Regions from separate parts of the Homo sapiens genome. Here regions 2, 3 and 4 are each linked to region 1. The links come from fine-mapping of genetic effects on gene expression. A gene starts in region 1. Each other region holds a variant in brackets. All regions are shown on one strand. Distances are from middle to middle. Region 1 holds the start of SMARCD3 (SWI/SNF related BAF chromatin remodeling complex subunit D3). Region 2 has its middle 22 kb from the start of SMARCD3. Region 3 has its middle 31 kb from the start of NUB1. Region 4 has its middle 43 kb from the start of SMARCD3.

The links. PIP is the estimated chance that this variant, and not a neighbour inherited with it, causes the effect. A credible set is the group of variants that fine-mapping cannot tell apart.
Region 2: its variant is the best candidate, but not a certain one, in a credible set for the expression of SMARCD3 in gastroesophageal junction (GTEx, PIP 0.79).
Region 3: its variant is the best candidate, but not a certain one, in a credible set for the expression of SMARCD3 in whole blood (TOPMed, PIP 0.60).
Region 4: its variant is the best candidate, but not a certain one, in a credible set for the expression of SMARCD3 in whole blood (TOPMed, PIP 0.52).

The regions. Positions count from the first base shown.
Region 1 is chr7:151,244,525-151,252,375 of GRCh38, reverse strand. SMARCD3 (SWI/SNF related BAF chromatin remodeling complex subunit D3) reads left to right here and starts at 3,682. Exons shown (of 13, transcript NM_001003801.2): 1 at 3,682-3,891; 2 at 6,705-6,916. The coding sequence starts at 3,814. RefSeq lists enhancers at 1-161, 5,441-6,014, 6,015-6,589, 6,590-7,163, 7,164-7,738 and silencers at 3,022-3,111, 5,159-5,453, 6,528-6,607, 6,628-6,927.
Region 2 is chr7:151,266,676-151,274,526 of GRCh38, reverse strand. It overlaps a transcript of SMARCD3 not described here. Among named protein-coding and RNA genes, the nearest start is that of SMARCD3, 22 kb to the right of the region's middle. The variant T/C (reference allele first, on the strand shown) is at 4,140.
Region 3 is chr7:151,306,393-151,314,243 of GRCh38, reverse strand. No RefSeq gene overlaps it. Among named protein-coding and RNA genes, the nearest start is that of NUB1, 31 kb to the left of the region's middle. The variant T/G (reference allele first, on the strand shown) is at 3,665.
Region 4 is chr7:151,287,335-151,295,185 of GRCh38, reverse strand. No RefSeq gene overlaps it. Among named protein-coding and RNA genes, the nearest start is that of SMARCD3, 43 kb to the right of the region's middle. The variant G/A (reference allele first, on the strand shown) is at 4,529.

The DNA of each region.
Region 1 (7,851 bases):
AGCTTTATTGCTGGGGGTGTAGGGAAAAGGGAATAGAGGAAAGAGCTCTCTCCCAAGCAATCCGTTCTCCCTCCAGTCTCGCTTCCTTTGTTCCTCCCTTCCCTTCCTCCCTATCCCCTCGCCAGCTTCTCTTCTCTCCTTCCAGCCCCTTCTTCCATGTTCCCCGCTCTCCTGCTCCTCCTGCCGCGCCCCCCGAGCGGAGTCCCCGTGGTGGGACCTTCACGGAGGGCAGGAGGGCGGGACTGCGGCTGGGGCCCGGCCTAGGTGGCCATCTTCCCGCAGGGAAGGAGTTAAGTCTCTTCCCCGCATCCCTCCTCCCTCCGCCGCCTCCCCGGCCGCCGCGGAGTCCTGCAGCTGGGCCCCGGGCTGACCTTCACCGGGAGGGAGGCCGCGGCGCGCATGCCCAGGCCGGGGACCGGCGCGGGCGGAGGGAGGGGCGGCGCGGGCCGGGCCGGCCCGAGCCCCCCCAGCTCCCCGGCCGCCGCCCGCTCGCTCGGGCGCGGTGGGGGCGAGGCGGCCGAGCCCGTCCCGCAGGCCGCGGCGCATCTCTCCCTGCGCGGGGAGCGGCGCTTTGCCATTTGGTGCTGGTGGTGCTTCAGCGAGGGAAGGAGCGATGGGGGGACGGCAGGGGGGACTGCGGCGCCGGGCGCCGGGCGGCCGCCCTCGCCCCCGACAGGCGCACGGCCTGCCCCAAGTGCGGCGGGCGCCCTATTGCGCTGGGAGGAATCCACGCTCTTCCCGGGCCTCCTTCCCACCCGCAGGAGCCATCGGCGGCGTGGCACACCGAGCGCCCTTCTGGGGTTAAGCCACTGGGGATCCTGGCCTTTGTGAGGAGGGAGCCCTGGCCCGGGCCCCCACACTGGCGCCGCCCCAGCTTTCTGGTCTGAAGGCTCCTCCTGTCGCCCACCTAAAAGCAGTACGCAAATGTGTCTGGGCCTGCCTTGTGAATGGGGCCCACCACGGGATGTGGAGGTGCTCAAGGTGTGCCTGTGTGTGCAGAGCCATGTGGCTTCCTCGACCTTTTGGTGCTTGTATTGGTGTGCCTGCTGTGTGTGTGTTGGGAGGGTGTGTGTGCAAGGTGTATCTATTGTCTGTGTACACTTAAGGATGTCTCCCAGAGGGGTGGCTCAGGAGAGCGCTTATGTATGGACTTGGGTGAAGCTCACCAGCTCCTCCACAGGGGCTTCACCATAGCCCCTCGTCTAACTACCTCCCGCAACCTCTTCCACCACCAAGACCAAGCCCGGGATCTCCCAGGCCCTGCCTCAAACTTCCCAGCTACCCAAACTGGAGTGCCCAGCATCTCCTCTGCTGTCTTCTTTTCCCAAAAGGTCTCTCCAATAGTTGAGAACACTGAGCTTTAACAAAGCCTAGGGGTGTCTATCTCCAACCCCCAGAACCTCCAAGGCCTGTGGTTTCCCATGCCCCTGCTAGACGCACCCATGGTGGGTGGGGGTGCCCATGGTAACTCACACCATCAGGTAAATGGCAGAGTACCAGCTCCATGCATTGGCTCATTAAGCTTTGCAAGCATCAGGTATCTGGGGTACTGTTGAGTTCCTGTGCCCAGGCATGGAGGAAGAGTGGGAGTTAAAGATCAGTCTCTGACCTTATGGGGACCTTAGCCTCTCTGGGAAAGCAAAGCTAATGTCCTTGAAGCACAGTGCACGTCAGGCCAGTCCAATGCCAATTCATGGTGCTGGGTAGATGGCAATGAGCATTTGGAGAAGAGAAAAATCTTTGCATACAAGTAGGACGAAGGAAGGCTTCCTGGAGGAAGTGGGGCCTGGGCTGGGCTTTAAAGAATAGGTGTGATTTGGACAAGCAGAGGGAAGGCAGAGGGCAGGCAAAGGGCATTCCAGGTAAAAGAATCGGGGGCAGGGGCTAAGAAATGGGAGTGAGCGGGGATTCTGGAGGTTAGCAGGCAGACTGGGCAAGTCACTTCCCCAGGTTCCCAGCAGCATGACCTATGGCAGACAGAGGCAGGCCACCCACCCATCCCCACCGTGTCAGGGCCCAGGCTCTGTGTGTGGGGGTGTGTGGGGGGTAGTCTAGGCTAAAGCCCTGGGAGAGATTTGGTAGCAAGGGGATCTCTAGGTCCCCTTTCAAGCTAGGGGTGGTGGAGGAGCAACCTGGACCAGATGTCCTCCCTGACATTTCAGATTGACAGTGGGCACCTAAATGAACAGTGACAGCCAAGAGCACAACCAGGGCCAGCAGAAATCAGGCTGCAGGCAGAAAGGACCCCCTGGGCAAAGGCATTCTGAAGGGTTTAGGGTCAGTACCCTTCAGTCTTCAGGGCCCAACTTCAAGTAAGTGTTTCAACAAACTCCCCTAGGCACTAGGCTATGGTCCTGCCCTCACCTGGATTCTCACAGTGAGGCCCCAGCAGACCCCCAAACTTGACCCAAGGGCCTTGTTCCAAAGCCCACGGCTCCTCCCCAAGAAGGAGAAAAAAGGGGCGTGGCCTTTGGGGACCTGGGTAGGCCCAGGACTCCCTGCCTGGGTATGTCAGGATTTGCCCCTCCTCCTTCCGGTCCCTCCTCCACTCCAGGGACTGCCAACTCCTTCCACACGCCCCTTCTGGGGCTCCCTTGCCACCCCACGCCACACCCCAGCCTCAAGACCCCTCTCTTTGGGGTCTTGAGGCCGGCCCAATATACCCACTATACCCAGCCCAGCTGCCCCAACTCCTCTGGGTCCCCTAACCCCACTCCACCCCCACCCCAAGGAAACCAAGCCCAGCTTGCCTCGTTCTCTCCACGCACCCACCCGAGCACCCCCCTGGCGCTGCGCCATTCCCCACATTCATTCTCTTCCTGTTCTCATGAGCACAATCCCTGTCCCTCTTTCTGAAATACTTCCCCTATTGCCCTCACTTTCTCACAGAGCGGCAAACAAAGACTCACATACCCAGAAATAGCCTCTCACAGAGCTGAAAGGCACAGGCCATGTCCTGCCACACACGCAGGCGCGCGCGCACGGAGGCTGTCGTGGAGGGAGGCACACATACAGGGCGTCTGTCTGCACGCACATAAGCTGCCACGCCACAAAAGGGCGCGGACACACACGGCGTGTGAGACAAGGGCACACACAGCAGTGGACGCAGGGCCACGCCGCCGCCCGGGCACACCCACCGCCGCCGGCCCCGGGCAGGCGCGAGGCCTCGCGGGCCGGGCTCCCCCGGTTCCTGCCAGCGAATGTTTCCCTGCTCGGCCTGCCAGGTCTCTGGGGAAAGGGCCTCAGAAATGCAGCAGGAGCCGCTGGGGGAAAAGTTGGAACTGACTGTTCCCTGCCTGGCGCGGCCGGCGAATTCCCTGACGGAGAAACTATTTGTGGCGAGAGCCGGTGGCCGGCGACCCCCCGCCGCCTCCCCTGGCGTCCCCTCCCCGCGCCGCCTCCCGCGGGCCTCGGCGGCTTCGGGCTGCAGCACTGCTGCCCAGCGCCCGCGGCCGGGCTGGTCGGCGCGCCTCGCCGCTTATCTGCGCTGTTTGGACAGCGGGCTTGGAAAGGCAGGCGGCCCCGTCCCCGCCGAGTCAACAGGCAGACCCCGGGCCGCCGGACTATTTCTGTCTTATCAGTGCAGGAATGCGGCAGCCGCGGCGGCGGCGGCGGCGGCGGGCGGGCGGCGGCGGCGTGGGCCGTGGGCCGTCAGGGCAGCCCTGAAGGGGCCCCCTCCCCACTCCGCTCGAGTAGAAGTGTGAGAGAGCCCAGCAGGACTCAGAGGGGAGAGTTGGAGGAAAAAAAAAGGCAGAAAAGGGAAAGAAAGAGGAAGAGAGAGAGAGAGTGAGAGGAGCCGCTGAGCCCACCCCGATGGCCGCGGACGAAGTTGCCGGAGGGGCGCGCAAAGCCACGAAAAGCAAACTTTTTGAGTTTCTGGTCCATGGGGTGGTGAGTGGGGGAAAGTTAGCGGGGGAGGGCAAGCGAGCTGGCTCGGGCTGAATGGAGGGCTGATCGGGAGGGGCCGGGAGGGCGCTCCCGCTCTCCCACCCCTCTAGTGGGGGGCGTCATGGCCCACGGCCCGGCCGCGGGACTGTGCTGGCGCCCTGGCACCCGAACACGTCGCCAGGCGGCCGGCCGGGTCTGACGCGAGGCGGGGAAGGGAGGCGTTTGCATGGCTCTTGTCAGGGGCGGGGGTGGGACTTGGGGACTCTACCCCCCAAGTAGGGGGTCCTCGCTGTAGCCGACAGGTTGACTTTCGTTCTTTTCCTTGTGGGCCCAGGTGTTGCCCCTGCCCTGGGGGTGGGGGTGGGGGATGGGGACATGGCAGAGGCTGGGCTGGGCTGTCTGTTCATCCGTTGGGACAGTGTCACTGCTTGTGTCTCCGGAGCAAGGAGCAGGTGACCCTGGAGGCACTGTAGCGGGAAGCTCGCAGGCTGAGCCACCTCTGCATCCCAGCGGGAGGGCTCTGGAGCTTCTGCCTTAGGGTGGGGGAGAGGACCGCTCTAGGGACTTAGCCCAAGTTAGGGGCTCTGAGGGTCTCCTTGGCGGACTCAGCCACCAGAAGCTGATGTCCTTAACTCCTCGAACATGTGAAGGAAGGGGCTGGAGTTGGGGACATGAGGCCTAGAGACCGAAGGGACAGGGGAGCACTGTCCTGCCACAGGCAGGCTGTGAAGGCACGTGGGAGCCCGGGAGGCTGGAGCTGAGTCAGTAGGGCCCGGCTGGGAGGGGTATGGAGGGGTGGGGAATGGGAGAAGCAGGGGCTGCGACTCTTGGGATGGGTGAGGGAGTGGAGGCCCTGTGTAGAGGAAGCTGTCGGGTTTACTATGGCCAAATTTGGTTGTGACCCCAAGGAAGACACCCTCTCAGTAAGGCCAGAGTCCCTAGGATTTTGGCCTTTCATGGGGATGGGGCTGGTGGCGGGCACAGCTCTCTGGGGGCTCTGAAAGCCTCCCTCTCAGGGCCTCTTCAGCAGATGGGCCAGTATCCCTGGCCTTGATAACTGGGGAGAGCAGCTGACAGGAAGAGGGGGACTCCCTGGAGTGGCCTGTCCTCCAGCCCCAGGGACCCCTGGGGGTAACTTCCCAAGGTGTCCATGTCAGCTAGCTGAGTTACCAGTCCTAACCTGGCTGCTGGTGGGAGCCCCTTTAAAAAGGCCCATCTAGTGGGGAGAGGCTGTACACGTGGACTGTTTTTTTAATCTGGTCAACTTACAGCTTCAGTTCTTGAGTGGCTGTGAGCCCCAGTGCCCCACCTAGCTGGTGGCCAGGCCTGGGCTCCATTCTGGGCTGCTACCCTGGAGGCCTGAGTGACAGGGTCAGGTGGGGTGAGGGAAGCAGACACATGGACAGGCAGGTTTCACTGCAGGAGAGATAGGCAGAGACAGCTGCTGACCGAGGGTGGGAGGACATTAGGGTTAGACACAGAGCCTGGAGGACCAGGAGGGAGAGGTAGCAGTTGGAAGGAAAACAGCAAGCCCAAGGGGGCCCCTCCTCATGCCTGGGGGTGAGGTGGGTGGTGTGTCCATGTTAACAGTGCCAGGGTCTGCATCCCCTGCCCTCTGATCTTCTTCCTGCTTTCGTGGTCCCAGTCCCCATCCCACCCCGCTCTTTCTGTTTCACAGCCCCTGAAACTCTCTCTGGCCCTCCCCATCTCCCTTCTGGAGTCTGGACAAGTGGGGTTTGGAACACTTCGCTCGATGCATTTGCATCTCATTTACACCCCATCTGACCACCCAGGGGTAGTGGCAAGGGAGGAGGAGCCGCCTCCTCTCAGTCTCCACAGCCCCCATGAACCCTGACTGCTGACCTCACTGGGGTGGGGATGGGAAGAGGAGGAGGTGGCTGCTGACCTGGGCAGACAGGAAGGGAAATGTGAGTGCAAGTGTCACTGCCCTGACCCACCCCAGGCCCCCCTGGGCAGCCCACCTCTAACGCAGTTCCCCTCCTCCCAATCAGAGAATCCTGGCTGTGTCTGGGGCGCCCCAGCAGGCTGCCCTTGCCTGCCCTGCCTCCAGCCCTCACCCTGGGAGCAAATTATGGGGGCAGCTTGGTCAGCGAAGACCCTGGATGTGGGGACTTGGAGTCAGCCGAGGGGAGTGGGGTTTGGGACCCAAGGGTCAAAAGCAGGGACACAGGGAGCAGAGTGGCTGAGATGAGCTAGTGAGTACCAGGCAGAACCGCCCAAGAAGTGGAGCCTGAGAAGGAGGAGCAGGAGGAGGAGCAGAAGTCGGAGCAGGGAGCCGGGTACCGGACCTCAACCAAGCCGCAGAGAGCAAAGCCCTGGGCCCCCAGGAGGCAGCCCTTCAGGGGCTGCCTGGGCCAGGATGAGCTGTGTGACCTTGGCGAGGTCATTTTTCTCCTTGAGCCACAGTGGCCCCATCCGTCAAGTGGGGATGAAAGGACCTGCTCAGGCTGTCTTGCAGAGGAGCATGTGGATGTGAACATCTTTGAAAGGTTGAAAGGCGCCATTAATATTCATTTTTGCGGTACCTTCCGCAGCCCCGAGGCTCGCAATGCCCTGTGCGGTGCCTGGCTTCAGTTAGCTTCCTGCAGCCAGACGCCAAGCCCCTCCGCCAGAGCCGCGCAGATTCCGGCGCCCCTGCCCCTCCTACCCATCGCTCCCACCCATCGCTCAACGCTCAGGGTCACCAGCCGAGGGTCTGGTGGGGGAGGGGAGACGCCGGCTCACCGCGCCTGGAGCGGGGGGCCCTGGTCTGACCCACGGGCGCCCGTTTCTGCTTCACCCCCGCCCACCCCCAGCGCCCCGGGATGCCGTCTGGAGCCCGGATGCCCCACCAGGGGGCGCCCATGGGCCCCCCGGGCTCCCCGTACATGGGCAGCCCCGCCGTGCGACCCGGCCTGGCCCCCGCGGGCATGGAGCCCGCCCGCAAGCGAGCAGCGCCCCCGCCCGGGCAGAGCCAGGCACAGAGCCAGGGCCAGCCGGTGCCCACCGCCCCCGCGCGGAGCCGCAGGTGAGTGGGAGGCCCGGCGAGGAGGGGGCGTGCAGGGGCGGGCCCTGGGGGACCCGCAGGGACCAGGTAAGCGAGTAGCGGGGATTGGAAGGGGCGAGGAAGAATGATTAGCAGGGAGCGAGGCTTCCCGGGTCGAATGCCCTCTGGGGAGGTAGGCTTAGGGGGCACCGGCCTGATTCTTTTGTGTGCCCACGGTAGAGACAGGCTGCGGCGTCGGCAGCCGGTACCGCTTCCCTGCACGCTCCCCTCACCCTTCTCCTTGTCACCTGCTCAGTCCTTCTCTCCACCCATCAGGTTCTGGGTGATGCTTCAGTCTTTGGGGTGGGGGCGGGGCTTCCAGTGGGACTGAGGGCAGAGGTGTAGGACTGTGTTCCCCAAAGTGTGGTTCTCCGCTGAGCCTTCCTGCCGGCCCCCGGGCTGTTTCAAAGCCACTCCAGATTTTCTCAATGGGACTCTCTGACCATGGGGGTGGAGCTTGGGGATTTGCCCTGTGGGTAGGTGGTCTCTACCCAGTCCTGCTCTTAATTCTTAGGCACTCTGGCCCAGGTCTGCTCTCAAGCCACCAGGGCCAGCCCATTTCCTTGCTTTCCTCCAGCAGCTGGTGGCACCCTCAAAGCCCCTGCTGGCTCCTGGCAACAGCAGTGCCCCTCCGGGTTTCAGTATTTAGCCAAATACACATGCTTTTTTTGCACAACAGATGGGTTTCTATAAAAGGTGTAATATCAATTTTACCTCATTATTATTTTTTACACATCGGGGAAAAAATCACCACTTATAGGAATCCCATGATGAATTCTTTAGTAAAGTGCATCGTCATTTTGTACAGCAAATGGTAATTCCCTGATTTATCTTGTATAAATGGAGAGTTACACATAGATAATCTGTTTAAAACAAACCAGACCTTTAATGAAATCCGCTTGTTAGCCTTAGATTTC
Region 2 (7,851 bases), 22 kb before region 1:
GTGGGAGCCAACCCTGCCCTGCCCCAGGCGGACCTCTAGCTCTGATGCACTCTGGGCCATTGCTTGCTTGTAGGGCCTTCCTAAGCCTCCTCCTCAAGGAGTGAGAGGAAGATGGTCTGCATTTGTCCGCATCAGTCCCCACTTGTCCAGAAGGACACACTGAGGCTCTGGGCAGAAAAGCCACCTGCCCCAGAGCCCCAGCTGGCATGGTAAGGGGTCGGAACTGAAGTCTGGTCTGAGCTCTGCCTGCCCAGCCCCACCCATCATCACGCTGGCTGGCCTCACCGGTGGGAGGCACCTGGCAACAGGGTGGGTACTGGCAGGGCCTCAAGGTATGTGGAGCCCAGTCCCTGTCCTCAGGGCCTGCGGCCTTGGAGAGCAGCCTTGACAATTGGGCACAAAGGGCCACAGACCACACAGGCCTCAGAGCACTGAGGAGGGAGACATCAGGAAAGTCCTGGAAAGGTGCAATTGGAAATGGCCCAGAGGAGCCTGAGGCTCGGGGAGGCCTGGGGCTGTGGGCAGAATGAAAGTGCTTTCTCTGCTTCTCCTTCCTCAGAAGTGGGCAGAGGAACTCATCCTCCTGCCAGGCTGCTCTGAAGGCCAGGGACAGCCCCGTTCCCCTTCAAACTGCCCCAGTGCCCCTCCTCCTCCAGTGAGGTGCAGGCCCAGGGCAAAATGGGGCAGGGCACCGGCTTTTGGGGAAGCTGGCCTGGCCCAGAGGATCCAAGCCACACAGGGCAGCAGCAGGCACCAGTCACCTGGTACCCATCACCAAGGAAACACACCTGGTGGCGGCATGCCCAGCCCCACACCTGAAGCCCCAGTCCACCTGCAGGAAAGTCAAGGCCTCCAAGCAAACGTCCCACCCTTATCCCCAACACCTCCCCAGCACCTGAGGTGAACTGGGGACTGGTTGCTCAGTTTGTGGTGGTTGGTGTTTTAGCTGAAATTCATAAAGAAAAGGTGAGAACTAGTATATTAAACCAAGCACTCTACAGTTCTGGGGTGTCTGAGGTTAGAGGCCAGGTTGAACGGGGGGCAGGCTGATGGGAGGCAGCTAAGCTTCCTGGAGGGGTGCACCTGAAGTGGTCCCCCACGTGGAGAGTCCTCCTAATATTTGACATGCCCTTCGTTAGGCCCTAAGGGGCTCCCCAGCAGCAGTCGGAGGGAGCCTTGGGCTGTTCCAGACCTTTCCTGAAGGGTCACTGCAGGATGGGCACAGGGGAAGGAGGGCAGAGGAGGCCTGTGAAGATTGGAGCTGGAGCCCTGGGGCAGTAGGTCCATCCTAGTGACACCTGGCCCCAGAGTGACCCTGGCCATGAGTCAGAAGCCCCAGCTCCAAGAGTGACAAGGTGGTGGAAGTTTGGCATCTTATCTTGGAGTTGCATTCACATGCAATCGGCGGTGTGCGTTGCAGGCTCTTGGCAGCCAGGCAGGCACTTGGGCATTTGGATGCTGACAGGCCCTGGTGCTGGTGCCTAGGCGTCCGTCCTCACCCCAAAACTGGCGGTGTGACTGCAAGTGAGTGCTCATGATTAGTGAAAATTAAGTGGTGGAGATAATGAGCTAGAGGTGTCACTGGGAGGAGGCTGAGCCACCCATCGGGGATGAGTGGACTTCCCTCAGCTGTGGCTGGACTCCTAACCATCTGGAATTGCTGTACCAGAGGGGCCAAGCTGAGGCCACCGCCTGCCTCTGACGGGTACTTGGCTGAGGGACATCTTGTAGGGACCATTGCTGTGTCCCCCTGTGCTCCTTGCTAATGAGGGGTGTGGGAATCCTTGGTGACTCATAAAGGACCGTAGAGGAGGGCTGATCACTTCAGCCAGGCCCACATTTTGGGATAGCGCGTTCGGTTTCTTGACTTTCCAAGCTGTGACACCGATTCTTGGCACTCTACACTTACTTCCAGGGATTTGAGAACGTGCCTCATGAGCGTGCGCCCCACACAGGCCTCCTACTGCAACTTACAAACTTGGACCATCTCCCATGTGAACCTTTTTCCCAGACTGAAGATCGTTCTGGGAAAATGCCCTAGAGTGAGGGACACTGTGCCATAAGGGAGGGAGAGGAAGACACAGGGAGGTGTTCTTATGCTCCGCCTCATCCTGAAAAGGGTTTCAGGTAGTTTGCAAAGATACATATAGTGAGGAAACTGAGACAGAGATAGAGTAGAGAAAACATGGTGTTGCCTAGGATGTGGCTACTGCACCAAATGCAAACCACGAGGCCCAGAGACCCCGATGCCAGCAGAGAAGCAAGCAGTTACATGATTTACACTGTGCATGAGATAAAAATCAAACAACTTGCTCAAATCACGTGATTTCTGGTCCCGAGCCACTGGGAGGTCTCTCCTGTATGAGGAAATGAAGGGGATACCATGTGACAAAGTTATGCAATGTTCTCAACAATGTCACAACTGCTTCCTAGGGCTAAGGCAAGGACCAACACAATACTCCCCAGCCATAAACCTACTGGTAATATTGCTTAACCCAAACTTAAAATTTGGAGCAACTAGAGGAATGCATTGCTACCTTCAGGAAATACCCTCTTTCTCTTTTGTAAGAGACAGAGTCTCACGCTGTTGCTCAGGCTGGAGTGCAGTGGTGTGATCATGGCTCACTGCAGCCTCCAACTCCTGGGCTCAGGCGATCCTGCTTTAGCCTCCTGAGTAACTGGGACTACAAGCGTAAGCCACAATGCCCCCTAGCTTTTGTTTGTTTTGTTTTTATTTTAGTAGAGATGAGGTCTCACTATATTTCCTAGGCTGGTCTCAAATTCCTGGGCTCAAGCAATCCTCCCACTTCAGCCTCCCAAAGTGTTGGGAGGCATGAGCCATCGAGCCTGGCCAGGAAATACTCTCTATATTGATATTTACAACAATGTTTCTGATAAATATCAGGCAGCAGGAAGGTTTATTTAAAATTGGAAATTAAGTACAGAGTCACATTCTCCAGGTAGGGGTAATATCCTTATAGGAAATAAAGAGCTCCTTAAGCACACAGGCCCCACAGGTGAGTTTGGGTATGAGGAGGGACCAGTCCTGGTCTTTCCCCACAGGTCCTGAACCCATGGAAAAACAGGCACAGGCATCAGTTAACTTAAGTGCAAGGAAATTCAAGCTGAAGAGAGGCTTGAACCTGAGGCCCAAGTGTAGAAGGCAGGTCCTACTCCCTAACCTGGGTTTGCTTACCTGGGCATGGGAACAGAAGGAGATGATCTGTGTCCTAAAACAGACTCGTCTAGAAGAGGAATGCTGGCCACAGGGTAAGCAGCCTTGCCTTCAGCACCTTCACCCCACCCGCCTGGGAAAGGGATTGTGCGGCTGGTGCAGGCCCTCACCACCTCATCAGACAAAGCCTCCTCCCACAGGGAGGAAGGGTGGGGAGAGGGCCAGGGTCATTCCAGTATCTCCTCTCCTGGGAATACAGTACATGTTTCCTTGTGAACACATGAAGACAAGGGAGTAGGGCCCCTCTGCAGTGGGGTGGATGGGCCACATTGCTAAACAGTGATATTGAGGCTCAGGTCCAGACCTGAAGTGACCAAGTCCACCCCCTTTCTTACCTCTCCATTGGAACAACTGCCACATCCTTTTATTTGATTTTATTTCCTAGATAAGTGTCAATTCCATCTGCTTCTGATTTCCCACGTCACTGCCCTGGTCCACACACTGTGATCTTCTGCCCCCATCTGAGTGCCGCATACTCAGCCTTGTCCCTGCATCAGACCCCGGCCCAGCACAGTAACGAGAATGGGCTTCCTAAACACAAATCTGATTTGTTCCGCCTTCCACTTCCTAGTGGCTTCATTCTCGTGCCCTCACTCAGGGCCCTCACACATGCTGTTCCCTGCACCTCCGACACCCTTCCCAGCTCCCTTCACCTGGCTAACTGCACTCATCCTTGAAGCCTCCACGTCAGTTCCACCTCTTCCAGGGAGGCTTTCTCCCACCCGGCTTGGGCGTGAAGGCCCACCCACTCTCTTCTGTCTTGCAGCACCTACCAAAGAGGCTAATACTGAGTTGCAGGGCTCCTTAAAGGCATGGCTGCATCTGTCTTGTTCCACACAGTACAGAGAAGTATTTCTTGAATGAATGAGCAAATGTGTGAGGCAGTGGACAGAGAGGGGGTGGC[T/C]CTACGGCTGATTCTAAAATGAGCCCCAGATCCCTCTTGGTGCTGTCAGCCTCACCCTCTCTACACCACCACGATGCAAGAGTGGGCCTTTCTTGCCTGCCAACCTTGTCCTGCTGTCGCCTGAGCTGCCCTGTGCCCCGCGTCTCCCTCCTGTAACTCCGTGGTTGGAGGAGTGCTCCATGCTCATTCCCTCTTCAGTTATTCCTATGGTGAGGGAGAATGTCACTCCCTCTGACCTTGGGTTTGCCTTTTGGAGTTGCAGGGAGAAACCCCTTTCTCCCTCCAAGCCATCTGACCACCTTTCAACATTTGGAGGCAGCTTTCGCACAGGCTCTGTCTCCGCTCGGAACATCCAGCTCTGGCTCTTTCAAATATTCCCAGCCTTCGTGCCCCCTGGGGAGCGCTGAAGATCCCCCAAGGCCATGGCCCACACTTGGAGCCACCTGTGCCTGTGCTAGAAGGTGAGCTCTCCCTTTCCAGCCAGGCAGATGGGGAAGGGGTACTCAGTTTTCTGAGTGACATGTCTCATCTGTAGAATGGGACATCATGCCCTTCTATAAAGAAGCAATGGTGATGGCGGACCTTCTGCACAATGCCTGCGTTCACCGAGCGCCCCTCGCCACTGCAAGTGTTCACATGGGATGCTGAGCGCTGTCCCTGCTCCAGGTGTCATCTGTGGACCCCAGAGCACCATCTAATGCCACCGATGCCTCCCTTGGTTGCAGGTCCCAGCCTGCCATTCATGCTGCCCGCATACGCCACTGGCCACCACCCAGACACGCAGAAGTCCATTCTTCCTGTTCCATATCTGTCAGCCCCAACATGGAGCTATCTTAGCTTTAGCCCATCTTTCCAGCCCACAGCTCCCATCCAGCCTGATGCAGTCTGCAGGTGTGAAAGGCCTGTCTTCTTTGCCTTTCATAAAGTTTTTAATTGGAAAAAAGAAAAAGTGAGCCAGCAGGGCGCAGGAGAGAGCCCTGTGGTCCCTGGAGATGGCTCAGGGTGGGCCGGCAGCTGAATCCACAGCAGGGGACTCGAGGGTGTGTAGGCTTGAAGGAGGTGCTGGTGGGTCGGAAGGTGTCCCCCGTGGGGGCCTAAGTAGATGCAAGAGAAGCTGAGCTCCAGCTTCAGGTCTACAGCACCCACTCCACTCTGCCCAGCAGGAAGCAGCACTGTGCTTTTGCCTTTTCCTGCCTCAGTTTCCCTTCTAACTCCCCCTTCACCATCACCTCACTTGCATCTTACCCAGGCCTCTTCCTTCAAAAGAAAAGTCTGTCTTTGAGACACTTTAGATCCATTCAGTGGGCAGGGATGTCTCCCCCTGCCACCTGCCATCACAGCCCCCACCTCAGATTCAAGAACAGCTGCCACAAACACAGTGACCTGCAGGAAGTGAAAGAGTGAAGTGACTGGGGGCAGAGTAATAGCAGCCAGTAAAGACTGAGGGATCATTGTGGGCTTTGAGAACTATTTCAAGAATTTTAGGCCAGTCGCAGTGGTTCATGCCTGTAATCTCGGCACTTTGGGAGGCCAAGGCAGGAAGATCGCCTGAAGCCAGGAGTTCAAGACCAGCCTGGGCAACAAAGCGAGACCTCATCTCTACATTAAAAAAAAAAGAGAGAGAATTTTGTGTGGTTTAATTTATCCTAACCACAACACTATAAGGTAAGTGCTGTTATAATCATCATCCTCTCCAGATAAGGAAACTGAGGCACAGGGCATGAAGGAACTTTCCCAGTGGTCAGGGCAAGAGTCCCAACTGGGGTCTCTCCACCATATTTAGCCCTCAGAAATTTGCTGTGCCCAAACCTCAGGGGCCCTCACAGAGACAAGACAGCCACCCCTTTATTCAGGGTCTCAACCCAGCCCCTCCTCTTTTGCCCCCAGCACTGAGGCTCAAGGTCAAAGGCCATTTATCATCTCACACACAGCCTGTTCCACTCATTGACTTTCACTGCTGTGTCCCTAGGGTCATTTGAGTTTGTAACCCCTAAAATAGGGAATGGGGAGGAGATGTGGCAAATCGGAGGGCTCTCGCCCCTCTGAAAAGGGGCAGCCCCTCCTCAGCTCCACCCGATTGTCTCTAAATGGACTGGTGGTCTGGTCTTGCCAAATTTCTCATTTTTTAAGAGATTCTGGAAATCTGGCTTTGATGTGAAATCTCTCAGTCTTTAAGGTTGGTGCCTAATTAAAGTGTTTAGGACACAGTGAGGGCTGAGCAAAACCTATCTGCCCTGCCCAGTTCGTAACACTCACCTTGAGCTTTCCTTGCCTGCCACTTGTCCCCTGTCCTCCCTTCTATCCCCCAGCCCAGAAAACAAACCAGCATTTCTCCCTGAGAACTCAGGGCCCCCAGTTTGAGAAACACTGCATTAAGAATTGCTGTCACTTTATTTGTTTATTTATTTATGAGACAGGATCTCAGCTCTGTCGCCTAGGCTGGAGTACAGTGGTGCGATCATGGCTCACTGCAGCCTCAACATCCTGGGCTCAGGCAGTTCTCCCACCTCAGTGCCCCAAGTAGCTGGAACTACAGGTGTGCACCACCATACCCGGCTAATATATTTAAATTTTCGTAGAGAGGAGTCTTGCTATCTTGCCCAGGCTGGTCTCAAACTCTTGAGCTCAAGCAATCCGCCCACCTCAGCTTCCCAGAGTGCTGGAATTACAGGCTTGGGCCACTGCACCTGGCCTGCTGTCACTTCAGTTGGCTTCTTGTCAACAATGAAATTATAAACAAAATGCAGAGTCTTTTCAAAAACTTGAGGACCCTCCCCCTAGAACAGATCTGAATCCCAGTTTGAGAAGCAGTGCTCATAAATCCTCATGATGGCTGCTAATGGGAAGGGCAGGGGCTGTTGTAGAATCCCTCTCAACTTGTCTGTGTCTTAAACCCGGAGTACCAACCCCTGAGGACTTCGCAGTACATTCGATAACGAATGGGGGAGCAGTCAGATAGTGACTCAGAAAGAACACGGACCTTATGATCAGAAAACAGGAGTTTGAGCCTCACTTTCAACATTAACTCGCTCTCCAGCTCTGAATCAGTCTTTAAAGAACTCTCTACGCCTTGTGTTCCTGTCTTTAAAATGGATACAGTAATAGTCATCCCTTCAGTTTCCTGGAGTGTGGAGAGAACCAAATTGGATAATGCATGTTGAACTGTTTTGTAGGCTAAGCTCCATGAAGCTCTATGTGTTAATTTGGAGGTGTTTGACAAAGTGTTTCCCTATATCTTTAGGGTATGATACATAAACGTGGGCTGGATGCAGTGGTGTGCGGGTAAATGTTTAACAACTGGCTCTTGGCAGGACGGGGAGTGGGAGCAGAACTCCGGTTTGTATCGTTCGCCAATTCCTGTGGTATAAATACCACCAGCTGGGTGCAGTGGCTGGGCCTGTAATCCCAGCGCTTTGGGAGGCCACTGCGGGAGGCTCGCTTCACGCCAAAAGTTCAAGACCAGCCTGGGCAACAAAGCAACACCCCATTTCTACAAAAAATTTTAACAGTTAGCCAGACATGGTGGCATGCACCTATAGTCTCAGCTACTCAGGAGGCTGAGGCAGGAAGATGGCTTGAGCCCAGGAGGTCCATGCTGTAATAAGCCATGATCACACCACTGTACTCCAGCCTAGGCGATAGCCAGACCCTATCTCAAAAAACAAACAAACAAAAAAAACCTCCCATATTGGCTGATGTTAAGCCGCTGACA
Region 3 (7,851 bases), 62 kb before region 1:
GCTGGGGTTAGAGTATCTGAGAGCCCCTCTCCTAACTGCTGAAAAGGAGCGAGTTCTCCAGCCTTTGGTTACATGTCCCCAACCAATGCCATTTTCTAAGAACAGCCTCTGTGGCTCTGCTCCCAGCACAAGCTTTCCTGTGCCAAGAACTGGGAGGCGGCCGGGGCAGTGGGGACTGGCGCCTGACTCAGCCTCCTGGGTCAACGGGTGGGGAGCGTCCCGGGGCTCAGGCTGCCTCATCTCTCTCCACCCCTGCCCCCCTTTCCATCTCACACCCACACTCACACTTACAAACACACACACTCATACCCACAGTCACGCACACACCCACACTCACGCACATGAACTCATACACAACCAAACACACTCATACACATGCAGTCATACACTACTCCCCCTACACCACACACACACTCACAAATACACATTCACTCACACACACCAAACACCCATACACATACACATACACCACTCCCCCACACTCACACACACTCTCACACACACACCCCACACACACACGAACTCACACACACTCATACACAACCACACACCCATACACATGCACTCACACACCACTCCCCCACATCACACACATAAATACACTCACTCATACACACCCACCAAACACCCATACACATGCACACACACTACTCCCCCACACAACTCCCCCACACTCACACTCTCACACCCTCCCCACACATCCCAAACTCACTCCCACACACACGAACTCACACATGCTCATACACAACCACACACACCCATACACATGCACTCAAACACCACTCCTACACCACACACACTCACAAATACACATTCACTCATACACACCCACACATACCCATACACGTGCTCACACACCACTTCCCCTACATCACTCACACCCACCCTCACACACACGCATTCACTCATACACACCCACACACACCCATACACATTCACTCACACCTCTCCCACCCACTCACACACAAACTCAGTAACACATACCTTCACACACTCATATACACCCACATACATGCACTGACATACCACTCCACACTCCTCTACACTCACACACACACATCCCCACAACCCACACTCACACATATCCACACCCACACTCACAAATACGTTCATTTATACACACCCACACACCCATATACATGCAGTCACACTACTCCCCCACACTCACAGCCACACACACCTTCACACACTCATACATTCACACACCCACACACATGCACTGACACTCCACTCCCTCACACTCTCACACACACCCCCAGACATCCACACTCACACATTCACACACACGCACACACACCACTCCCTCACACTCACACCCCACACACATCCACACTCACACAAACACACACATTCACACATATATACACACGCACTCACATCACTCCTCACACTCGCACACACACACCACCCCCACACATTCATACACACAGAGACACACTCACCCACACACATTCACAAACTCTCACACACATTCACACACTCATATCCACACACACCCATACTCACACATGCACTCACACACCACTCCCCAACAGTCAGACACTCACAAACACACATAGCCCCCACACACTGACACACTCACTCACACTCTCACACTCACACACACCCTGTGGAAGACTAGAAAGAGCCCTGGACTCTAACGTGACACCAACATGGTCTTGCCTCTCAGGGTCTCAGGGGTCTGCCTCGCTATGGGCCTCAGTTTCCCCACCTACACAAGGGGATTGGACTAGATGATGCCTCTGAGCCCCCCCGCCCCAGCGTTAATTCTAGCTCTGCCCTTCAAGGAGGTTATCATCTAATAGAGGAAGCAGGAGATGCCCTCCAAGTCATGCCACAACGAACGTCTTGAACCCCCCTAAATGGAATGCTGGCATATTCCACTCCCAAATACACAGTCATGTGCTGCATAATGATACTGGCCAATGACAGACGGCATACATGACGGTGGTCCCATAAGATGATGGGACCCATACGATTATACCGTACATTTACTGTACCTTTTCCATGTTTCATTATGTTTAAATACACAATACTGGCCGGGTGCAGTGGCTCACACCTGTAATCCCAGCACTTTGGGAGGCCGAGGCAGGAGAATCACTTGAACCCAGGAAGCGGAGGTTGCAGTGAGCCAAGACTGGGCCACAAATACAATATTAGGAATGAAAATAAATATTACTAAGAATGAGAAAAAAGTTATAAATTTTAAAAAGTAAAAAATACCACAAACATTACAAAATCCAGAAAAATAAAATATTTTTATTAATTAACTGTCTGACACATATCTATAATTTTTTTTCATTTTTTGGCTATAGGCTCTTTAATTGACTCTTTAAATGACAACAATCTTATCAGAGAAATTAGAAAGACGATCTTTGCTCTAGCATGGTGGGTTAAAATTTAGCGATTTATTAATTTAGAAAAGTTTCTTTTAGCTTCTGTGCCAGTTGTCAACTTATTGTATCTCAGCTCCTAATACGTCCCTCATTGCCTGACCTCCTAGAATTGAGCTGAGCCTTGTAATTAGTTGCCCTTTGCCTGCAGCTGCATGTCAAGCTTTGTCAGTAGAGGGCGCTGAAGAGACACGGGAGGAGAAAGGGGTTTCTCTTCACTGTCTGGTGCACTCCTCTTGGGAGGCTCCTGCTGCCCATGAGGTTTCTCTACACCTGCTCCTGCAAGGCACCCGGCTTCTGCAGTGTCTGGCAGCTCCAGCAGCATGTGTGGCTTCTGCAGCACCAACTCCAATTCCCAGGCACCAGTAGCTTTCTCTGGAAGCCCCCTGGGCAGCTTTGCAGGAGTTTGTGGCCACTAGGGCACTGTCCTGGGAATTGCTTCCCCCTGCATTTTCTCCTGTGGCTTTGCAGACTGTTCTGAGACATGACGTGTCACTGTGGGTGATTCCTCTGATACCCCAGAGAGCAGATTTCCAGCTGCTTCTGCCAACCTGGCACCTCAGTGACTTCTCTGCCACGATCTCTCCCATCAGGTCTGGATCTCAGCCGTGGCAGGGACCTTCTTCTGGGGTGCTTTATCTCAGCCCTAAGAGTGATGGTTGTGCCTCTATCTGCCATTCCTGCATTTTTCAAGAGTTCTCTTAACTTCTTTCTAGCCAGGCCTTATTACTCCAATCCCCTGTTAAAGTCAATTCTTTTTTCTTTTTTCTTTTTTTTTTTTTTTGACTGAATTTCATTCTGTTGCCCAGGCTGAAATGCAGTGGCACGATCTCGGCTCACTGCAACCTCCGCCTCCCGGGTTCAAGCGATTACCATGTCCCAGCCTCCCAGGTAGCTGGGACTACAGGCATGCACCACCATGCCTGGCTACTTTTTGTATTTTTAGTAGAGATGGGTTAGCCAGGCTGGTCTCGAACTCCTGACCTCAAGTGATCCACCAGGCTCGGCTGGGTGGAGTGCTGGGATTACAAGCGTGAGCCACTGTGCCTGGCCTAAAGTTAATTATCTATGGGAAACATTCCTTGTACAAATTATCGTGTGGTTTCTGTCTCCTGATTGGAACCTGGCTAGTACAGCTTTACTGCCCTCTGTTGGTCATAATGATTGTATATCTGAAATATTATTTTCAAATCTGGGAAAATACCTGTCAAGTTTCATATATGAGTTTTAAGATTCCAGGGCATTTCATGGGTTTTGTGCTTAGTGGCTAC[T/G]CTTAAAAACCCTTTGAATGCATGGCAGGGTGTCCTCTGTGACATGGTGCTCTACAAACACTGTTGCCTCAATGTCAGCATTTCATGTCAAATTGTAAAGAAGTTCCATCCTTTTCCTGTATGTTCTTAGGATTCACTCATTGGTTTATCAAAGAACCCAAAAGCTTATTCATTGTTTCTATTCAAAATGTATCATTTCTCCTGAATCAATTGCTGCTTTTTATGTGATTGGAAAGGGTTTTGTTACAATTTGCTTCTCAATGTCCAAATAACCTCTATCAATTTTATCTGTCATCTTTATTACTTTTGTTCCAGATTTCATTAATTTCAAATTGATGACAAAAGAAGGTATCTTGTACAACCAAATCTAGAGTCTACAGTTTCTCACTGGTTTTATTACAATGTTGCAAAACAATTTTTTAACATTGTAGCTAAAAGGTGGTATTCAAGTTTTATCAAATATACCATTCCCATCAAAAAAGAAGCCTGGGCAATATAGTGAGACTCTGTCTCTACAAAATAAATAAATAAATAAATAAATAAATAAATAAATAAATAAATAAATTAAATTAGCCAGACATGGTGGTGCATGCCTGTAGTCCCAGCTACTAGGGAGGCTGAGGTGGGAGGATCACTTGAGTCCGGGAAGTCGAGGTTGCAGTGAGATATGATCATGCCACTGCACTCCAGCCTGGGTGACAGAGTGAGACCCTGCCTCAAAATAATAAAAAAAGAAAAGATGTGCCCTGTCTACTCTGCTGAAGGGATATGCAGTTGGCACTTCCAACACGGTCTGCTACAGACAAGTCAGAACTTATGATGGTTTTTCAGTTTTTCTGGGCTACACGGAACTTCCTTGGCACTCACTAAGGCTTCCAACACCGGAAGTTCTTCATCTATCATCACATATCTTCAGTCTTCATGGATCTAGGGAAACCCTCTTACCAGGCATAAATCACCTCCCACTGTACAAGCAGGAAATGCCAGACACTCACTCTTTTAGCCTCCCTGGCTGTGGCAGGACCCACACATGTCAAAGCTCCATCTGTGAGTTGCACCCTCCCAGACCACAGGCCAGATGCTAGTGGCCAAAGGAGGTGGGGACTCCACAGACTTGCTTGGTTATGATGTAGCTTTGAGGTTTCCAGAGGCTGCTGCAGGGCCAGTTCCAGCCCCCTCGAACAATAAAGGAGGTGGCTGCTGAGGCTAGATCACAAAACAGGGACAGTGGCCTGAGGAACGTGGCTGCTGCCCACGATTGGCAAGGAGGTGGGAGGGAGCTTCGGAGACACGGCCCCTCTCCTTTCACCCTGAGCACCCGCTGGGCCAGCCCTGAGACACAGAGCAGACCAGAGCGCTGGGAATGAACCTGGGGTAGGGTGGGGTGGGGAGAAAGGAGAATAACCAGCCCCTCAGGGCTTGGAATTGAGAAGTGTGAAACCACGTGCAAAAGCTTCCCTGGATGACCCAGATGAGGGATATTGATCCAGGAAGGTCTTAGCAGCAGATGGGGAATTGCACGCTGGCGGGCAGTCCTGGAAGCGGGTGCAGAGGGACCCATTCCTGCAGGTCATTCCTCTCAGCACATGGACACGGGCAGTTCCCACAGATGCCAGCAAGCCACCGCCTGCAGGCAGGATGGGAGGGCGCCCACCCTTGGGGTGCTTTCTGGCTGTACCCTGATGATGGCTGCAGCCACACATCTCAGAGTGCGGTTCATGGAATACTAAAAAATGTAAATGCTGCAATCAGGGCTCTGAAAATAATGTTGCTGGAATTATTGAGGGAAATTTACAAATTAAATAGCCTAAAAGGCTGCAAATGAAAATGACATTAAATTGGCAAGGACTTGTGGAGCACAAGAATTATTTGTCTTTCCTTAAATAAGAAAGTGGTCAGAGACTGGGTCACAGAGCCAAAGCAGGATGGAGGGACCCCTGCCTCATAATGGAACTAGATAGAGGCCCAGTCCTCCGCGACCCTGGCCAGGGCGCTCTCTTCCACCAGCTGTTCCCCTTGCTGAGGCACATGGGTTGGGGAGGCTGCTGAGTGCTTGGGTCCCACATGCAGTCCATGGGGCACAGGACCCATGACCCCAGTCTCACTGATGTTGCTCCCTGGCAGCTGGGCTGCAAACATCCACAGCAGGCCGGGAGACAGACAGACCAGCCTGGCAAGCAGGAGGCGGAAACCAGGCAGTGTTTTGGGCCATACATTGGTTTCCTGGGGCTTCCTACTGGCTTGAACAAAAGAGATGTATGGTCTCCTGGTTCTGGAGGCCAGAAGTTGGAGACCATAGTGTCGGCAGGGCTAGTCCCCCTCTGAGGGCACTAGGGAAGGCTCGGTCCCAGGCCTCCCTCCCAGCTTCCAGAGGCTTCACTCACTCAATCTGCACATGGCATGGCGTTCTCCCTGTGTGCCTGTCTGTCTCTGTGTCCAAATTTCCCTTCTTTAAAAGGGCACAGCCATATTGGATTAGCACAACTTATCTTAATCATCTACACAGATCCTGTTTCCAAATAAGGTCACACTCACAGATATGGGGGGTTAAGACTTTGGCATCTTTTGGGGGACACAACTTAACCCATAAGAGCCGGCTACTCTCCACAAGGGTATTTGGCCCATTCTGTGTATTAAGCACTGTGCCAGCCTCTGAGGGGAGGTGGGATGAATAAGATGAGGGCCCTGCCTCCACGGAGCTGACTCCAGCCTCAGAAGTGCTGCCAGCCTCACTTACCAGCAAACTTTATGCAAAACTGGAAGCCCAAGGCGTTTCTGAACAGAACCTGGCTCTGTGTCTCTCTGGGAGGCGTCTGCCCCCAGGGCTGCTCAGGGCCCTCAGGCAGGGGACAGTCCTGAGGACCCTGACCCAGAAAATACAGAACAGGGAGATGTGAACATTTGGAGAGCATGCGTAATGACCCTGAGCAATTCCATCTTCAACAGGAGCTCAAAATGCAGATCCTGAGTCAAACTGCAAATGGCAACCCCTCCCCTCTGGCCCACTGTCCCCTTTCCCACAACCGGACGCCCTGCGATGCCCCCGAGCTGAGTGCAGATGACCTGCAGATGAATGTCTTTGAGTGTTTATTCCTGAAAGGCTGCCCCTCCCCATGAGGACAAAGGGAGTGAGGGTCTAGAAACATGGGTTCTAAACCCAGCCCTGTCACCAATGAGCAGCGGGACCTTGGGCCAATCCCACCTCCCTCTGGCCTTTGCTCAGAAGTTGGGTGGCTCTAAGGTCCCTTCTGGTGCCATGATTCCGACTCTATGGGGAACACAGGGAGGGCTTGGTGAATCCCCACAAGGGGACCTATACAGCAGGACCCTCCACCCTTCAGTTCCCTGGAGGAAGCAGGATGTGTCCCTACCTTTACCTGCTTATTGGTCTTTCGATCTTTACCTGGTGGGCCTCAGCTGCTCAAGCCTCTTGGCTGTGATTGGGCTTAGGTGAATACAGTGAGGCCATTGTTTTCTCCATGGGATGTCTCAGATTAGGAGCAGAGGGTGGCTCAACCAGCCTTCACAATAGGGATACCTTCTGTACGTCAGCCCTTATCTTGAGTATTGGGCCAGCCCCATCACCTGACCCAGGGCACAGTCACCCACACACCTCGGGGGTCATTACAAGCTCAGTGTTTCCTGCCCCTGAGAGATTCCAGCCCTGCTGTCTGTCCATCTTTTACAAACCAGATGAAGTTTCATCTCCATGAAGCCTTCCTGGATACATTTTTTATATTTTTTTGGCAGGGTCTTGTTCTATCACCCGGGCTGCTGTAGTGCAGTGGTGTGATCTCAGCTCACTGCAACCTCCACCTCCCGGGCTCAAGTGATCTTCCCACCTCAGCCTCCCGAGTAGCTGGAATGGCAGATGCACACTAATTTTTTTTTTTTTTTTGTAGAGACAAGATTTCACCATGATGCCCAGGCTTGTCTCGAACTCCTGGGCTCAAGGGATCCGCCTGCCTTGACCTCCTCAAGTGTCGGGATTATAGGTGTGAGCCACTGCGCCCAGCACTCCTGAATGTATCTTGATGCAGCCAAACAGTATCAACTTCTCCTCCATCTCAGCCACAATACTTATTGCCTGGACTGTATATTGAAGTTCAAATCATATTCTATGTGATATTTAAACACAGCTTCAAACATACAAACCACAAAATGCCACCACCACGTGCCTTGCTGTG
Region 4 (7,851 bases), 43 kb before region 1:
GGGGATAGTGGTCAAGAGTGTTCAAAAAATGATGAAAGATTTCAGTCACAGATTTAAGAAGTTCCATATGACCTGTAAGCAGGATAAATACAAAGAAAACCATGCTTGGTTCCACTGTAGTAAAACTGCAAAAAGCCAGAGTCAAAGAGTAAATCTTAAAAAAACAGCCAAAGGAAAAAAGAAAAAGATATATTACCTTCAAAAATAAAGGCAAAATAAAGTTGTCTTTTTTTTAATAAGCACGCCAACAGAATTTTTGCCAGCAGACCTGCAGTAAAGCAAATAATAAAGCAATTTATTTGGGAAGAAGGAAAATGATACCAGATGGAAGCACAGTAATGCAATGAAGAATAATGATCCTGGGAAAGAATAAATAGGTGGGAAAATCTAAATCTAGATCCTGTAAGGACTAAATGCCTGTCCTTGGAGTACCAAGTAACGGTGCAGCATGCGCTGTTCATCATGAGCTGAGTTTACCTAATCCACCAAGTCATAAAGCTGAATGTGTGCAGCTTGCATTGCATAGCAGCTGTAAGAATAAGCTCGCTCAGGTCCAGAAGGTACAAATAATTGCCCGGGTCAGCAGCTCAAACTTTAATGGTATCCACTCCTACTTTTTTGCTACCTCTCCCTCAACTCACAACTATGGCTTCATAGTGAGTTCCCTCTGCCTACTTAATAGACGATGAAGAAAAATCAATCTATTGTTTACAGAAGGGTCATCAGATGGAAGTGTATGACCACTGCACTAAGTTCCATGCAGAAATGGGCCCAGAAGACAGTAGTGAAGGGAAAGCCTCCCAGTAGACAAATTTTAGCCAATCTAGTTGTCTGCTTTGCTTTGGAGGCAAGATGGCTTAGGGTATGGCTCTACATTGACTAATGGGTAATGGGTAATAGATTGTGTGGCTGGTCAGGAACTTTGGTCAAAGCCAGAAGACTGGTGACCAGGAAGTCTGGGAAAGAGGTATGTGGACAGAGGTCCCAGAATGGGCACCACATGAAGATACTCATGTATCATGCACATTCCCATCAGAGTCACCCACTGCAGAGGAGGCTTTCAATGATCAGGCTGATGAAATGATCAATTCCTCCTGTGAATGTCAGCCAGCTTGTTTTTCCCCTACCCAATCCTTCCTCAGTAGGTACCCGCCACTGGGGCTCATATGGATGCCATTACCATTGAGTTCCCAAACTGCTAAATACTAGAAATAACCAACATTGAATCCCTGACATTGCACCATCCACAGGAACCAGCCAGCCCCCTGGAAATAGGTTGATGCTAACTTTGTATCACTCCTTCATGAGGCGGCTATCAATTTGTCCTCTTAAGGATGGAGTCCTTTGGAGTAACTAACAGAATTTTATTATTAAAACAAACAAACAAAAGAAGAGTGGAGTCCTATTCCAGATACAGACTTGCTTTCCCTACTTGCACTGCTTCTGCCAGTCCCACTGTTTGAAGATTTCCAGAATGCCCTATTTATTGTCATGGTAACCCCTACAACATCATCTCCAACCAAGGAACTCATAATAACAAAAGACCTGTGGCACTGAGTTTATGCCCAGAGAATCCACTGGTCTTACGCTGTGCCTATCGCTCAGTTGCAACTGTGTGGGTGAATCTGGGAAATGGCCCACTGAAGGCTCAGTTATGGCACCGAGTGGAGGACAGAACCCTGTGAGGCTGGGGTGCTCCCCTAGACGATGTGGTAGATACTTTAAGCCAATGGCCAAAATATGGTGCTGTTTCCCCTATAGCCAGAATACATAGGTTCCTGTTCTTTGAGAGAGTATTCCTGGAGACTCAATTTATTTGTTCTGAGGGAGATGCTGGAGATTTGAAGAGAGTGGAGAAGGCAGGAAATAATCATTTAGGAGTAGAATGGCTGGGTCATATGGGAGACATGTCAAGAAGCTGCCAAGCCTTTTTCAGTATTTGCTCTGCCTTCCTGCCAGTGCTTGGGTTGGTCAGTCTTCTTGATTTTAACCAATGTAATGGGTGTGAGTTGGGTCCTTTTTTTTCAAAATTTTTTGTTGTAGTAAAATACAGATAACATAAAATTTATCATCTTAACCATGTCTTAAGACAAAGTCTTGCTCTATCTCCCAGACTGGGGTGCGGTGGTGCAATCATAGCTCACTACAACCTTGAACTCCTGGGGTCAAGGAATCCTCCCACCTCAGCCTCCTGAGTAGCTAGGACTACAGGCGTGTGCCACTGGGCTTGGCTAACTTTTAAAAATTTTTCTTAGAGACAGAGTGTCACTCTGTTGCCTAGGCTGGTGTCCAACTCCTGGCCCCAAGAGATTTTTCCACCTCGGCCTTCCAAAGTGCTGGGATTACAGGCATGAGCCATGGTAAGTGTTCTCTCTCAATCACTTTTTTTTTTCTTTTTTTGAGACAGAGTCTCGCTCTGTTGGCTAGGCTGGAGTGCAGTGGCACGATCTCGGCTCACTGCAACCTCCATCTCCCGGCCTAAGCAATTCTCCTGCCTCAGCCTCCCGAGTAGCTGGGATTACAGGTGTGTGTCACCATGCCCGGCTAATTTTTGTATTTTTAGTAGAGACGGGGTTTCACCATGTTGGCCAGGCTGATCTCGAACTCCTGATCTCAGGTAATCTGCCCACCTCGGCCTCCCAAAGTGCTGGGATTACAGGCGTGAGCCACCGCGCCCAGCCTCAGCCACTTTTAAGAGAGAACACATCTTGTTTTCACTCCATTGGAAGCTGAAGCCTCCTACTGGCCAGGTTGGGCTTCTCGTGCTGCTGAATCCATAGGTGTCAAAGGGGGTCACCATACTGCTCAGGTACCCAGTTACCAAGGGGAATTGGCTGCTGCTGTGGAATAGGGGTAAAGAGAGTTCTATCTGGACCAGAGCACTTGCTGGGGCGACTCATAGTTGTTCCTGTCCAATAGTGATGGTCAGTGGCCACAGTGGCAACCCCATAAAGATAGGGCTGCTAAGGGCCGGGCACGGTGACTCACGCCTGTAATCCCAGCACTTTGGGAAGCCGAGGCAGGTGGATCACGAGATCAGGAGATCAAGACTATCCTGGCTAACATGGCAAAACCCCATCTCTACTAAAAATACAAAAAATTAGCCAGGCGTGGTGGTGGGTGCCTGTAGTCCCAGCTACTCAGGAGGCTGAGGCAGGAGAATGGCGTGAACCCAGGAGGCAGAGCTTGCAGTGAGCCAAGATCGCACCACTGCACTCCAGCCTAGGCGACAGAGTGAGACTCCATATAAAAAAAAAAAAGACAGAGCTACTAAGAACTTGTATCTTGTGGGGATGAAGATTTGGGTCAACCAAGGAGGTAAAATCAGAGCAGCAGAGATGCTGCTTCCACCAGTGGGTGGAGGAAGGAAGCCAAAAGGATCAACATCAACTTAGGTCTTATGACCAGCAAGATAGAGCTTTTTTTTCCCTTCCCTTTTTTTCCTGTTACTTTATATGAAGAGCAGCCCTGGTCGCTAACATTATTGCTTTGGCTCCTATTGGGAGTATGATTGAACTGAAATCACCAATAATCCAGTGGCTGATGGGACTTTGTGTTTCCCCTGGGTGGGGGTCATGGGATTTATTCCTCTAAGCAAGGGACAGAAATGCTTTTTGTCCCTCCTGATCCATTCTCTATCCTTCTCCTGCTTCATTTATGCCCAAGCAAGCTGACCTCTACAGACTGCATTACCCCAGCTCTCTTATCTTCTGGCTTCTGGTTGGATTTGCCAATGCAGGCCCCAGCAGAAGACTGGAGGTGTGGAGGAAAGGTGAGTCATGGGATTTATCCTGATTTTGGCAGTGGCTGCATGTCCCCGTAGTTCCTATGACACACACCCTCTTCCATGGTCTCAACTCCAACATGGTTCTGATAGCACAGCCCTGCTCCTTGCCCCTTGGTCTCCCTTTGGTGCTGGGGTCTGGGTGCTTTACCATCATCGTTGGTTCCCTTAGCCCTGCCCACCTCTTGTTAAGGGGCCCTTCATTACTGCTCTTTAACTAAACCCTCTTTCTGTGCCACATCCTTCCTACCAGGAGTCTGACTGGTCCTGGGACCTTTAAGAATTCAGCTTTGCCAAAGCACAAAGTTCAAGGTAGGAAGAAATGGTAAGAAATGAAGTGTACAGGGCAGGCGCGGTGGCTCACGCCTGTAACCCCAGCATTTTGGGAGGCCGAGGTGGGTGGATCACGAGGTCAGGAGATCCAGACCATCCTGGCTAACACGGTGAAACCCCATCTCTACTAAAAATACAAAAACAAAATTAGCCAGGCATGGTGGTGGGCACCTGTAGTCCCAGCTACTCAGGAGGCTGAGGCAGGAGAATGGCGTGAACCCGGGAGGTGGAGCTTGCAGTGAGCCGAGATTGCGCCACTGCACTCCAGCCTGGGTGACAGAGCGAGACCCCATAAAAAAAGAAAGAAAGAAAGGAAGGAAGAAAAGAAGAAAGGAAGAAAGAAGGAAAGAAAGAAAGAAAGAAAGAAAGAAAAAAGAAAGGAAGGAAGAAAGGAAGAAAGGAAGAAAGAAG[G/A]AAAGAAAGAAAGAAAGAAAGAAGAAAGAAAAAAAAGGAAGGAAGTGTATAGGGAGAGTGATCAATTATAAGAAGCTTTGGATGCTGTGATAACGTCAGCTACAAGGCATTGGGCAAGTTACCTAACCTCCCTTACCCTCAGTGTCATCACCTATGGAATAAGGGCAATCATCAGACATGCCTTTTGGAGTGCCTATGAGGATCAACGTAAAGAACACACATAAAGCACTCAACACAGTGACAGCCACAGCCAGGGATCGACAAATGTGAGCTGATTATTGTTAGGGATGGTGGCTCACGGCAAGATTTTAAGCAAGGAAGTGATCAGGGCCAATTTAGTAGTTCAAGAAGTTACACTAGAGGAAATGTAGAGAAGCAGTGAGGTTTGTCAGAGGCCACATGAAGTGCAGCAAGACTAGAGGCAGGAATACCAGTAAGGAGACTACCACACCAGTCTTAGCAAAATAATAACAAATAAAATACAATTATGAGGATCACCCCAATAAGGAATTAAACTAAAAAAGAGGAAGACATGGAATACAAGAAACAAGAATTCTGACGCAACACCTGGGGCCTATAGATACTTGTGTTTTGCTGAAGCATCAAATGTGAGGCTGCCCCTCCCCCAGTTCCACCTTCCATTGACTGAGATCCAGGCAGAACCCTCCTACATCTCTCTCTCTGCCACCTCCCCCGTCTTAATTCCTGATCATTTGGCTTTTTATTTTTTTATTTTATTTTATTTATTTATTTATTTATTTTTGAGACAGAGTCTCACTCTGTTGCCCAGGCTGGAGTGCAGAGTCATGATCCTGGCTCACTGCAACCTCCGCCTCCCAGGTTCAAATGATTCTCCTGCCTCAGCCTCCCGAGTAGTTGGGATTATAGGCACACACCACCACACCCAGCTAATTTTTGTATTTTTAGTAGAGACAGGGTTTCATCATGCTAGCCAGGCTGGTCTTGAACTCCTGATCTCAAGTGATCTGCCCTCCTCAGCCTCCCAAAGTGCTGGGATTACAGACATGAGCCACCACACCTGGCCAATTCCTGATAATTTGAATGTCCATGTAGAGGATCCTTCCAGGACCCCAGCCTCTCAGTTCCTACCCTCCTCTCCTCCAATGAGCCTGCCCTTTATTCTCCCTTCGCATCTCATCTCCCTAGCCTTACCCTAGACCTCTTCATTACCAATGACTGCAGCCTTTCCACACCTAAATAACCATTCCACACCTGCTCTTCTCCTCAAACCTCCAAAATCTCCTCCCCTATCCTCACGCTCAGTTGATAATTTTGCTTCCTATTTCACTGAGGAAATAGCCATCAGAAGAGAACTTCCACATGCTCCCACAACTATGCCTCACACCTGCCTGTTTGGTGCCCATATAAAACTCCTTCCCCACGTTCTCTGCAAAGTCATCCCCAGAGACCCTGATTTCATGGGTCTGAGGTGTACTAATGGCGATTTTTTTTACAACTTGATTTTTTTCTCCAGGTGATTCTAACATACATCCAAAGTTGAAAACTGCTGCTATAGATGAATGACTCCTGCTTTGTCTCAGGCTTACTCAAGAAAACTGCCCCAACTGTTGTCTTCTCCCTCCCCCAGCATCATCAATGTTTCCCTCTACTGGCTCATTCCCATCAGCTCACAAACATGCTGTTAATTTCCCCACTTTAAAGAAACCTTTGCAACCCCATTTCTCCCTCCAACTCCTCTTCACAATAAAACTGCCCTAAAGGGCTCTCTCTAGTTGCTGTCTATAATTCCTCTTCTCCCCTTCTGGCTTTGCCCTACAGACCCATCGAAACTTTCACCAAGGTCAACAAATGACCTCCTCATTGCTACAGGCAACAGCCAAGTCTCAGTCTTCAACTTACTGGGCCACCAGCAACACGTGACATGGTCGATCACTCTTCTCCCTAGAACGCTTCCTCTAGAGTTGGTTTCTAAGATGCCACATTCTTCTTGTGGGTCCTTCTCAGCCTCCTTTCCTGGCTTTTCCCTGTATCTGACCTCTTAGTGTTGGAATGCCCTAGGACTCAGGCTTTGGGCCTCTTCTCTTTAAATGTTCATTCCCTTGGTGAGCTCACCCAGTCTCATGGTATAAACTACCAGCTAAATGTTGACTCCTAAAAGTGTATTTCCAGCTTAAGCTCCAGCCTCCTACATCCAAGTGCCAGCTTGACATCTCTTTTGGATGTCCAATAAGCATCTCAAACTTATCCTCCCAACCTTCCTCATGTGAGTAACAGCAGCCCCATGCTTCCAGCTGGGATCAGGCCACATCTTTAGGGCCATCCTACCTTCTGTCTTTCTTTCATACCCATGGGCAATCTGAGAGCAAATCCCACTGGCTCTACTTTGAAAATATACTCAGAATCGAACCTTTTATTCAAAACATACTCAGAATCCAGTCCATCTTATTCAAACCAGCCATTGCCTCCTACCTGAGTGATGGCACTGTCCTTCTAACTGGTCTCCCTGCCTTGAGTTAAGGGCCATAGACTGTGTCCCTCACAGTCTATGCTCAGTATGGCAGCAGACTGGCCCACTTACATGAATATCAGATCATGTCTATCCTTGCTCAAAATGCTACAGTGGCTTCCCATCTGATTCAGGGTGAAGGACAAAGTCTTTTTTTTTTTTTGAGATAGAGTCTTGCTCTGTCGCCCAGGCTGGAGTGCAGTGGCGCGATCTCGGCTCACTGCAAGCTCCACCTCCCGGGTTCATGCCATTCTCCTGCCTCAGCCTCCCCAGCAGCTGGGACTACAGGCGCCTGCCACCACGCTGGGCTAATTTTTTGTATATTTAGTAGAGACGGGGTTTCACCGTGTTAGCCAGGATGGTCTCGATCTCCTGATCTTGTGATCCACCCGCCTCGGCCTCCCAAAGTGCTGGGATTAGAGGCGTGAGCCACCGCACCCGGCCGGGACAAAGTCTTTAAATACCCACAGAAAGGCCTGTACAACCCATCCTCTTCACTGCCCCCTACACATCGAGGCCATTATCTCTCCGACCTCACAGTCCATCAGCCACATTGCTGTTCCTCTAACAGGCCCTGAAAATCAAGGGGCGTTGTACTTCGTTCCCCTCCAGCTCCCATCCTTCAGTTAAACTTCTTATGTGGGGATAATTATAGATTGACATGCATTTGTAAGAAATAATGCAGAGATGTGTATTTTTTGTCCAGTGTCCCCAGTGGTGACATCTTGCAAAACTATAGCACGGTATCACAAGGAGGAGAGTTGTGTTGGTTTCCTGTAGCTGCTGTAACAAATCACCACAAACTGGGTGGCTGAAAACAAGATAAAGCTACGCT